Linked DNA regions of Homo sapiens. The protein of the gene in region 1 binds, or shares a complex with, the protein of each later gene. Each region holds a gene or a part of one and is shown on either strand. Other genes may lie near its edges. The genes, in order: FDX2, NDUFAB1 and NFS1.

Region 1 (3,746 bases):
CTCCCAAAGTGCTGGGATTACAGGCGTGAGCCACCGCGCCTGGCCTTTTTTTTTTGTTTGTTTGAGACAGAGTCCCGCTCTGTCATGCAGCCTGGAGTGCAGTGGTGCCATCTTGGCTCACTGCAACCTCTGCCTCCCAAGTTCAAGTGATTCTTGTGCCTCAGCCTCCCAAGTAGCTGGGATTATATGCATGTGCCACCACGCCCAGCTAATTTTTGTGTTTCTTGTAGAGACAGGGTTTCGCCATGTTGGCCAGACTAGTCTCAAACTCCTGTCCTCAAGTGAGTCGCCTGCCTCGGCCTCCCAAAGTGTTGGGATTACAGGCATGAGCCACTGTGCCTGGACAAGAAATTTCTATTATTATTTTTCTCTCAACAAATTATCAAACATCTGTTACATCTTGACAGGCAACAGATAAGCATGAATAAGGACATGGGTCACCAATCTCACTGGGGGACAGATGACAAAGTAGGAAACAAAACAGCCTGGCATTGTGGCTTGTGCCTATAATCCCAGCTACTTGGGAGGCTGAGGTGGGAGGATCACTTGAACCCAGGAGTTCAAGGCTGCAGTGAGGTATGATTGCATCATGGCACTCCAGCATTGGCGACACAGCAAGGCTCCGTCTCTTGAAAAAAAAAAAGTGAGAAGTGCTATATATCATATCACACTGATAAGACAGAGTAACTAGGGCATGGGTACTTCAGCTGGGCTGAGGGGAATGGGATTGTTAGGGACATGACATTTACACTGAGGTCTGAAGGATGAGAAAGAGCCAGAATGTTTGCTGGGAAAGCACTTCAGACAGAGGGAACAGCAAATGTAAAGGCCCCGAAGCAGGAATGAGCTTGGTTGTTTGAGGAACCACAAGAAAGCCAGTGTGGGCTGGGCGCGGTGGCTCATGCCTGTAATCCCAGCATTTTGGGAGGCTGAGGCGGGTGGATCACCTTTCAGGAGTTTGAGACCAGCCTGGCCAATGTGGTGAAACCCCGTCTCTACTAAAAATACAAAAATTAGCTGGGCTTGGTGGTGGGCGCCTGTAATCCCAGCTAGTCTGGAGGCTGGGGCAGGAGAAACGCTTGAACCCGGGAGGTGGAGGTTGCAGTGAGCTGAGGTGCAGTAAGCCATTGCACTCCAGCCTGGGCAACAAGAGTGAAACTCCATCTCAAAACAACAACAACAAAAAGAAAGCCAATGTGGCTAGAATACAGGGAGGAAGGGGGAAGAGAACACAAAATCCTGGGAGCCAGGAGTCCTAGTGATCTCTAATAAATGCTTAACAAATAAGAGCTTGGCAACAGATGAGGCCATGGTGAGGGGTTTGGATTTTAGTCCATATTTGGTGGGAAAAAGACGTGAAGAGACACACCTAATTTGTGGGTTTTTTTTTTTTTTTTTTTGGACAAATGTATAAGGACCTCCTTAATTCCCTCTGCCCGGTTCCTACCTTCCAGGTCCACCCCGTGGCGCTGGGCCAGGTGAAGAACATTGTCCCCGACTCTGCCACTCACTGGGATCCGCTGGCCTGAGCGGTCTACGAACACCACGTTCACCCTGGGGACAGATGGAAGTGCGAATGCCGAACTGGATGATGGGCTCAGGGCCCGGGTAGAATCTAGGGTTAGGAAGTAGGAATTGAGGCTTGACGCACAGGTACTGAATAGGGCAAAGCAGAAGGGGGACCTCGAGATGAAGCTACAGGGCAAGATGGGGACCAGAGGAATTCCGTGGGATGAGGAATGGGGGACTTGGCCCCCTGCACTCACACGTCCCCGGGCCGCTCCGGGCCGCCCGCGTCCTCCTCTCCAGCCGGGCGCGAGCCTGGAAAACACGGTTCGGTGAGCGGCTGCGCCGAGCCCCGCCCCGCCGGCATCTGACGGATTAACGCTGCCCGCCCCGGGCGCCCCAGGTACCTGTCGCTTGAAACTTTCTGGTTGTCCCCAGCGCCACCCCCTCCCCCGACCCGGAAGTGCCCCCAGGTCTGTTCCACCAGGTGCCCCTGGCAGCCTGCAGTAGAACCCTGGCACTCACGCCTCCCCGGGCCATGGAGGCGGCCATGACATGCATCACGTGACTCACCGACTGAGCATGCGCCGCGCCAGGGAGGCGAGGGAAAGCCCATAATCAATGGAACATAAGCGCAGATGTTTGCTTAGGGCCTGCGGTGACCAGGTGGGAAGAGCAGGGCGGAATCCATCTCAGGTAAACCCGCGGGGCCATCCCAGACCTCCCACTCAAGCCCACTGTTTGTCCCAAGAACCAGCCAACTCTGATTTCTTTAAAACCATTTACTTACAAACTTTAATTCAGCAAAGGTCCGTGTGGGGAGACTGGGGTGGGGTCGGGGGAATAGTCCCCTTGGAGTGGATGTGGACCCCCAGAGTCAAGGGAGGGAAGCTGGTGGCCCAGTTGGCTGGGGGCAAGGCCCAGGGTCACCTCAGGTCGACAGGTCCTGCTGGTGGGCGGGCCCAGAGTTTATCTTCATGGAGTGCTGGTTTCTGGCACTGGGCTGGAAGGAGGCCAGCTCCAGGGATCTGGCCGGGGGTGGGCAGGCAGAATTCAAGAATTCATCTTCAACAAGCGAGTGACAGCAGAGGCTCCGGGAGATGGGCACAATGTCCGACTCCCACAGACAGACAGCAGGGGACTGGCAGAGAAAGCCCATCTCTGCACGGAGGCCCGGGTAGGAGGGGGTGGTGGGGCCGGTTCGCCAAGATGAAGGCTTTCCCCTTCTACTGTCCCCAGGGTGGAGATCCTGGGTAGGGTGGCCCAATCCCTAGGCCAGAGCTGTTTGGTCCATAGTCAAGCTCCCAGAGCTTGGCATCTGTGGCTCTGGCCAGCAGGGCCTGGGGCCCAGCTTTTAAGGCATCAGAAGGGGAGGGGGCTGCGGCAGGGACCCCGGGCCCCACGGCTGGGGTATAGGCCAGATGGGCAGGCAGGGGCAGGAGACAGCCATGCCTGCAGCAAATGTGGGAAAAACAGCTGTTTCAAACCGCAAGGTGTGGAATGGTGGCCCGGACAGGCCGGGCCTTGAAGGAATCAGAGCTGGGGGCTGTCCGGGGTGGTTTGAAAAATAAAACTTAGAAAAGGAAACAGAAGTCAGTTGTCAAAGTTAAAAAAAAAGGAGACAGTCTCTGTATCTTCACGGGAGGTCAGGGAAACCTCCAAGGCACTCGAAAGGCCAAAATTACAGGAGCAATGAGGCAGGAGGGCTCCGGAGAGACGGGCACAGCGGAGGAGGAGATGGGGGGAGGGAGGGAGAGCAGGCCGGGGCCCCTCTCTCTTAAGGCTGCAGGGTTTCAGCGTGGGGAGCAAGCCAGAGACATAATGAGGCCTCCAGACTCCCCCACACCCCTTGGGCTCCTGGGGCTCCGGCTGATTGGTCAGTAAAGTCTTTCAGAGATTTTTCTATTACCGAAAGAGAGAAAATGGTTTAAAAAAAACACAAAACAAAACATCAGAAAACCCAAAAGCGATTTGGTGCAGGCCCTTGAGTTATCTCTGGTGCCAGCCACTTAGAAAATCCTCTTCCGCTTCAGGTAGGAGTCCGCGTAGTGGCCGCCGAGGCCCTGGGAGTGCTGGCCCACATAGCTGCCTTCTGGGCTGGGCTCGGGCGAGGGCAGCAGGTGGGCAAAGCTGCGTTTCTGGCCGCCCAGTGGGGTCTGGAGACAGAGGGCAGGGCGGGGCGGGTCAGGGGCCGCTGGGGGGCCGGGGCTTCCCAGCCCTGCATGTCCCCACCCCCTGCC
Region 2 (3,746 bases), on another chromosome or scaffold:
CATCTAACAACGAAAAAAAATTGAATCTGTTGTGTAGGTAAGGCAGTTTTTTTTTTGATTTGGGTTTTTGAAGAATCATTCCTGGTGATCCTGAGGTCTAAATTAGAGTGATAGGGTGATAGTAAACACTTTGGCCAGGCGCAGTGGCTCACGCCTGTAATCCCAGCACTTTGGGAGGCCAAGGTGGGTGGATCACGAGGTCAGGGGTTCGAGACCAGCCTGACTAACATGGTGAAACCCCGTCTCTACTAAAAATACAAAAATTAGCTGGGCGTGGTGGTGCACGCCTATAATCCCAGCTACTCGGGAGTCTGAGGGGTGAGAATTGCTTGAACCCGGGAGGCCGAGTTTGCAGTGAGCCGAGATCGTGCCATTGCACTCCAGCCTGGGTGACAGAGCAAGACTTTCTCAAAAAACCAAAAAACAGACAACATTAGAGTGAAATCCTTCATTAGCTATGTATATATTGTTCACTTCAAAACAGAGTAAGATAAAGCAAACCATGTACATACTAGCATAGGTTACATATAAAATGTCAGTTATAGCCTCTGTATGTTAAAAAAAATTCGATGTAGTCACAAGGACAGAAAACCAAACACTGTGTGTTCTCGCTCATAGGTGGGAACTGAACAATGAGGTCACTTGGACAGAGGGTGGGGAGCATCATTTACCAGGGCCTGTCAAGGGGTAGGGGGTTTGGGGAGGGACAGCATTAGGAGAAATACCTAATGTAAATGATGAGTTGATGGGTGCAGCAAACCAACATGGCACATGTATACCTATGTAACAAACCTGCACGTTGTGCACATGTACCCTAAAACTTAAAGTATAATAAATTCAATATAGTGATTAAGTGGCATTGTACCACCCTGTTATCTTGGGAAGCAGATGCTTTCATGGACTAAATTTTGTGTTTGGTGCTCCTTTCTTGCAGCTTTCAGTAAATTCTCATTTTATGAAAGACCTGGGCTTAGACAGTTTGGACCAAGTGGAGATTATCATGGCCATGGAAGACGAATTTGGTAAGGCTCAGTCTTCTATCTACACACTGCGATTTTTGATTAAGGTGGATTAAACTGAAAGAAGTGGTGGGCGTCTGAATTGGAATTAGAATTAAATATTAATAGAAACAGTAGCATCCACTGCCCTTCACACACACCTTCCTGCCCACTTACCATCAGGTGAAGTAAGCTTTAGGGATGGTACATTTATTCAGAGAGCACCTTGCACAAGCCCAGCAGAGTGCCCAGTGTGGTGCCAAGAGCCGAATGACCAGAGATGGTTCCAGGGGACTGATTCTTCAGACAGGGTTCTAAGACAAAGGGCAAAAGCCTCCCCGGAACACATGCTGATGACATGTCAGCCCCTCCTGAGCTCGGGTAACGCGAACCAGGTAGAAGTAATGTGTGCCAGGACAAGAGACGCACCCAGAGCCTCTGGCCTTGGTCTCCTATCCTGGCTCACAAGCACACTCCAAGTTTGGGACTGTGTGTTGGGCAGGTGAGACCTTTATAAGGTTCCATGGCTGTTTCTGCGTGAGTTGGCTGAATAGGAAATCAAAGGACTTCTGTGCTGTTCTGCAGAGCAGGGCCTAGTTAAAATTCCTCACAGATGATGCTGACTAGGATGGAATCCCTTTGCCTAGTGCTTAAGAGTACCAGGTCTGGAATTGAGCTTAGTCAGGTATGAGCCTGGACAAGTAACTGTATCTCTCAAAGCCTGTTTCCTCAGCTGTAAAGTGGGGGTGATAATAGTAGGAACCCCAGGATTGGAATTGCTGTGAGAATTAGAGATGATGTGTAAAATGCTCAGCACAGTGTTTGGGCCAAAGTAAGCTAACTACCAAAACCCAGCCATTTATAAAAACCCAACCATCATAAAAAAAAAAATGCATGGGTGACGTGTGTTACAGCACACGAACCTTGAGAACGTGCCGAGTGAAAGAAGCCAGACACAGAAGATGACACGTTATATACCATTTACATGAAATGTCAAGAAGAGGCAAATCCAGAGATAGAAAGTACACGGGTGGTTGCCAGAGCTAGGGAGGATGGGGAGTGACTGCTGACGGGCACTGGGTTTCTTTTTTTTTTTTTTTTTTTAATTGATCATTCTTGGGTGTTTCTCGCAGAGGGGGATTTGGCAGGGTCATAGGACAATAGTGGAGGGAAGGTCAGCAGGTAAACAAGTGAACAAAGGTCTCTGGTTTTCCTAGGCAGAGGACCCTGGGGCCTTCCGCAGTGTTTGTGTCCCTGGGTACTTGAGATTAGGGAGTGGTGATGACTCTTAACAAGCATGCTGCCTTCAAGTATCTGTTTAACAAAGCACATCTTGCACCACCCTTAATCCATTTAACCCTGAGTGGACACAGCACATGTTTCAGAGAGCACCGGGTTGGGGGTAAGGTCATAGATCAACAGCATCCCAAGGCAGAAGAATTTTTCTTAGTACAGAACAAAATGGAGTCTCCTATGTCTACTTCTTTCTACACAGACACAGCAACAATCTGATTTCTCTATCTTTTCCCCACATTTCCCCCTTTTCTATTCGAAACAACCGCCATCGTCATCATGGCCCGTTCTCAATGAGCTGTTGGGTACACCTCCCTGACGGGGCGGCTGCCGGGCGGAGACGCTCCTCACTTCCCAGACGGGGCGGCTGCCGGGCAGAGGGGCTCCTCACTTCTCAGACGGGGCGGCTGCCGGGCGGAGGGGCTCCTCACTTCTCAGACGGGGCGGCTGCCGGGCGGAGGGGCTCCTCACTTCTCAGAGGGGGCAGCCGGGCAGAGACGCTCCTCACCTCCCAGATGGGGTCGCGGCCGGGCAGAGGCGCTCCTCACATCCCAGACGGGGCAGTGGGGCAGAGGCGCTCCCCACATCTCAGACGATGGGTGGCCGGGCAGAGACGCTCCTCACTTCCTAGACGGGATGGTGGCCGGGAAGAGGCGCTCCTCACTTCCCAGACTGGGCAGCCGGGCAGAGGCGCTCCCCACATCTCAGACGATGGGTGGCCGGGCAGAGACGCTCCTCACTTCCTAGACAGGATGGCGGCCGGGAAGGGGCGCTCCTCACTTCCCAGACTGGGCAGCCGGGCAGAGGGGCTCCTCACATCCCAGACGATGGGCGGCCAGGCAGAGGCTGCAATCTCGGCACTTTGGGAGGCCAAGGCAGGCAGCTGGGAGGTGGAGGTTGTAGCTAGCCGAGATCACGCCACTGCACTCCAGCCTGGGCAACATTGTGCACTGAGTGAACGAGACTCCATCTGCAATCCCGGCACCTCGGGAGGCCGAGGCTGGCAGATCACTCGCGGTTAGGAGCTGGAGACCAGCCCAGCCAACACAGCGAAACCCTGTCTCCACCAAAAAAATACGAAAACCAGTCAGGCGTGGCGGCGCGTGCCTGCAATCGCAGGCACTGGGCAGGCCGAGGCAGGAGAATCAGGCAGGGAGGTTGCAGTGAGCAGAGATGGCGGCAGTACAGTCCAGCTTCGGCTCGGCATCAGAGGGAGACCATGGAAAGAGAGGGAGAGGGAGAGGGAGAGGGAGACCGTGGGAAGAGGGAGAGGGAGAGGGAGACCTTGGGGAGAGGGAGAGGGAGAGGGAGACCGTGGGAAGAGGGAGAGGGAGAGGGAGACCGTGGGGAGAGGGAGAGGGAGCTGGGTTTCTTTTACACAATGGTGATGGTTGCACAATGTGAATATACTAAAAACTACCAAATTATATGGTATATACAAGGAGGAATTTTCTA
Region 3 (3,746 bases), on another chromosome or scaffold:
TAAAAAAAAAAAAAAAGAACTATTGAGCTCTTACTATTTATAGTACTTCTTACTTACAGATGTTGTGGTAATAAACACTTTATCAGCATTGTCTTATTTAATCCACCCAGTAACCCTACAGAGTAGAAACTACCACAATCTCTGTTTTAAATGAGGAAAATAAGGCTCAAAGAAATTAGATAACTTGCCCAAGTCATTTAGCCAGGAAATATGGGAACCAATCAAATGCCTGCAGTCAAACTCCAAGGCTGCTCTTTGAATCTCTTCCAGAAAGAATCCAAAACCATTTCTACCTCCATGCACACCTACCAAGAAAGAAATGCCTCCCACAGGCCACTGCCCCTCTTTGACCTTAGAACCTCCTAGACTCCTGTGTACTAACCTGACGAGCACGTTCCATGGCTGCCTCACTCTCCCAGCCATAAGCATGTGTCCGGGAGTGTGGGTTCCCATAGTAGTTGATTAGGTAAGGGAGCATGGCATCAAGCACCCGGGGGTCCTGAACACAACAGAACAGATCATTTTCCTTGAGCGCATCGTCAATTCAGGTCCCACTCCACCCCTCAGACCTGGCCACCCTGCCTTAAGACACTCTCAACCCCTCAGGCACTGCCTAGAGGAGGCCTCAAACATTCTTTTGTTCCCACAAAACTACCCACCAAATATCAACCTAATACACTCCCACTCACAACCCATCCCAACTCGGATTGTTCTGCCTCCCCTCAGGTAGTCTACAAACACTGCCTTGTTCCGACATCTGTTTCTGCTGGTGTTTCCATTCCTGCCAGGTAATGTGATCTATAAGGGGCTGGGACAGGACAGGGCCTAGGCAAACACCCCTGGTCACACATTGGTGAAAACTTGCATTAGTCTTTTAACCCGTTTAATACTTGTCCAAGTTCACACAGTTACTAAGTGGCCGTTCTGCTCATTCCAGAGCCCATGCTTTTAACTAATACTATAGAGCCTGCGCTGAAGTGATCTGACCAAGGTCAATTGCTAGTGAGTAGTAAAGCCAATGCCAGTGGCCTCGAATTTAAGCCTCCCGACTCCTCGCTCAGTGCTTTTTCCAGCACACCTTCACGGCTCTCACTTCTCCAGGGATTCAGCCATTTCTTTGCGTGATCACGCCCATCATTTACTTCCTATAAGCAGCCTTGGGAAAAGCTTCATCCTTACCAGAGGAGTTGTAGCTTGCACATCCATATAGAGAGGTCGCAGCACTGGCCCCACCTCCGGGGCAGCGGCTGTATCTGCGGGAACCGCAGACTGAGGAGCACGGTCTCCAACTGATAAAAAATGGAACGGAGTAGCCAAGTAAGACCGAAGGCAACTATGAACGCATGGCATCCAAAGGGCAGAAGGAAAAATCTGGCTGGAGGTGAGATAAGTGTAAGGGATGCTAGGGTCGAATCTCAATGGAAAGAAAACAACACCAGATACCTGACACGCTGTAAAAGGAGGTAAGGGAGAGGGAGAGAGGGTTCCTGGAGGGGGTGTTGAGTTGATATTCAAATGGTATCGTAGGAAGGAAGGCTCTAAAGGGCAAAGACGTTTAGAAGGAACGTGGAGCCAGAGTAGGTGCAGTCCCTTCTGACCGAAGGTAACGGTCTGCACGGGAGCCCGGAGCAGCATCTGTAACTTGGCCAGGAGCGGTCTGAAGGACGCGCCTCCACGGCTCTGGGGGCCTGTCGCGCAGGGTGCGAGGGGTGGTGCGCCGGGGTCAACCGTTCGGGGACCCGCCTAAGAAAGTTTGAGGGATGTGTCATTTGAGAGAAGGGTCAGAGGGTCTGGGCAGCAGGGTGGACAGGAAGGCTCCGGAATATTCAGTTGCGTCGCCGCGCGGAGGGGACAGGTCCGCGCCTCCCGGAGAGCGGGACCCGAGCGTACCGCGCAGGCGCAGCCCCCGAGTGGGCGCCGCGGGCTTCGGCCCTGGAGCCGCTGTCACCGCCACTGCCGCCCGCCTCCAAGCGGCTCGGAGCAGCATGGTCCCGCTGGCAGAGCCCACCTTCCGAAGCCGCTGCAGTCCTGGGCCCCAGGCTCCCGGAAGTGCTGCCCGGCGCTCCGGAAGCGATTCATCGGGCCGCGAGCGCCCTCCCCGTCGTTTTCCGTGAGAGACGTAGAGCTGAGCGACCCAGCCCGCGAGCGAGGTGAGGTAGGCGCCGGGCGACGCGGGGCCGGAACGCGAAGAGGGTGGTGGAGTCGGGCTACCCACTGATTTTCCTTCCCTTACTTCCCCTGAGCCCTTGGGCCCACTTCCCAGCCTACCGCTTCCGTCCCCGCCCGACTCTTGGGCCAGCGCCTGGGCCCACACTTTCCTATCCCCCGCAGATGCCGGTGGCCGTGGGTCCCTACGGACAGTCCCAGCCAAGCTGCTTCGACCGTGTCAAAATGGGCTTCGTGATGGGTTGCGCCGTGGGCATGGCGGCCGGGGCGCTCTTCGGCACCTTTTCCTGTCTCAGGTGAGGGGCGCGGGCGGTGATCTCTGGGCAGGACAACCAGACCTTCCGGCCCTGCCCCATTCGGCCTGGAGCCTGAACACAGCCTCCTTCTTTCGACTTCCCTCTCTGTCCCCTCGCGAGCCAGACTCATTCCAAACCACCTTCAATCTGTAAAGTCAGGTTGGAAGCGTCAGTGCTTAAGAATTTGAGCTTTAGAGTCAAAATGCTTTCTGGCCCTTTTCTTACTGGTTCGGTGACTTTAGGCAAGTTGGAGACTGGGTTTCCTTAAGTGTAGAATGAAGACAGTAGCATCTAACTTATAGAGTTGTAAAAATTCGATCAGCACACTTTGCACAGCATCTGGCACATATTAAGTGCTCAGTAACTAGTTACTACTGTTGCTTTTATTTTTTTTTCCAATTGCGCATAAGGAAAGAAACTCGTTCAGCGGTTTTACTATTCTGGATACAGGATACAGAGATAAAGCAGTTAAACTTTACACTCTAAAGGTCATTTTCACATTTAGAGGCTGTTATTGCCATATCCCTAGATTGTAAATTATCATTTACAGAGCACTTACTCTATGTTAAGCACTGTGCTAAATACTGTAGTTTTCAAAATCCTGTAAATAATGTTGAGATGCCCATTTTACACTTGACACTATGTGTAAATTGTAGAGCTGACTCTTGAACCCCCACCTTACTCCAAAATCATTAACACCAAGAAACTAAAAGACAGATGTCTTTATTGGGTCTTAAACTGCAGGCAACACCAGTCAAAAAAGCTGGTTTCTCTATGTATTTTACACTGCATCTGCTGCCTCCCACAAACTGAAGGCAGTTAATACGACATCCACCAGAAAAATACCCTGGAGACCCAGATGGATCTTTTTCCTTCTCATTACCCACCCCAGGTAGTAAGATATAATATCCAGTAAGTGGAAAATCAGATGTAGGGGTTGCTAGACTAGTGTTAGCAAAAAATTGGAAAGGAGCAGTTAATACTCTTTCTGATATTTTTGTTACCAAATAGCTCCATCTTGGTTTCCTCCTCAGGATCGGAATGCGGGGTCGAGAGCTGATGGGCGGCATTGGGAAAACCATGATGCAGAGTGGCGGCACCTTTGGCACATTCATGGCCATTGGGATGGGCATCCGATGCTAACCATGGTTGCCAACTACATCTGTCCCTTCCCATCAATCCCAGCCCATGTACTAATAAAAGAAAGTCTTTGAGTAGTCAGTGTCCCTCTCTTAAAGGAATATTCTTCTCTCAGCCTATTATCCAGCTTTGCCAAGGATCTTC

What was found.
Region 2: FDX2 (region 1) and NDUFAB1 share a complex: the UniProt entries of both Homo sapiens proteins name them as parts of the mitochondrial core iron-sulfur cluster (ISC) complex.
Region 3: the proteins of FDX2 (region 1) and NFS1 are in contact, whole or in part, in a cryo-EM structure (PDB 8RMC), measured with the Homo sapiens proteins. Residues at the interface, in NP_001384335.1 of Homo sapiens: Ala104, Cys105, Glu106, Ala110, Cys111, Pro141, Leu142, Ile169, Thr170, Arg171, Asn172, Phe173, Tyr174, Val175, Asp176, His178, Lys181; in NP_066923.3 of Homo sapiens: Gln153, Lys157, Leu160, Asp161, Arg164, Ala168, Tyr175, Ala384, Ser385, Leu386, Glu387, Pro388, Tyr390, Arg393, Gln456, His457.

Annotation. Positions count from the first base shown.
Region 1 is NC_000019.10:10,313,939-10,317,684, forward strand, and holds the start of FDX2 (ferredoxin-2, mitochondrial), read right to left. Parts: upstream 2,078-3,746; 5' UTR 2,059-2,077; coding exon 1,914-2,058; intron 1,822-1,913; coding exon 1,767-1,821; intron 1,616-1,766; exon of another isoform or gene 1,555-1,615; coding exon 1,448-1,554; intron 1-1,447. Other genes in the region: RAVER1 (ribonucleoprotein PTB-binding 1), read right to left, coding at 3,516-3,662. UniProt on the Homo sapiens protein: Electron donor, of the core iron-sulfur cluster (ISC) assembly complex, that acts to reduce the persulfide into sulfide during [2Fe-2S] clusters assembly on the scaffolding protein ISCU.
Region 2 is NC_000016.10:23,582,612-23,586,357, reverse strand, and holds part of NDUFAB1 (acyl carrier protein, mitochondrial precursor), read left to right. Parts: intron 1-934; coding exon 935-1,022; intron 1,023-3,746. UniProt on the Homo sapiens protein: Carrier of the growing fatty acid chain in fatty acid biosynthesis.
Region 3 is NC_000020.11:35,697,302-35,701,047, forward strand, and holds the start of NFS1 (cysteine desulfurase isoform a precursor), read right to left. Parts: upstream 2,052-3,746; 5' UTR 1,988-2,051; coding exon 1,891-1,987; intron 1,290-1,890; coding exon 1,180-1,289; intron 500-1,179; coding exon 383-499; intron 1-382. Other genes in the region: ROMO1 (reactive oxygen species modulator 1), read left to right, coding at 2,332-2,462, 3,497-3,605.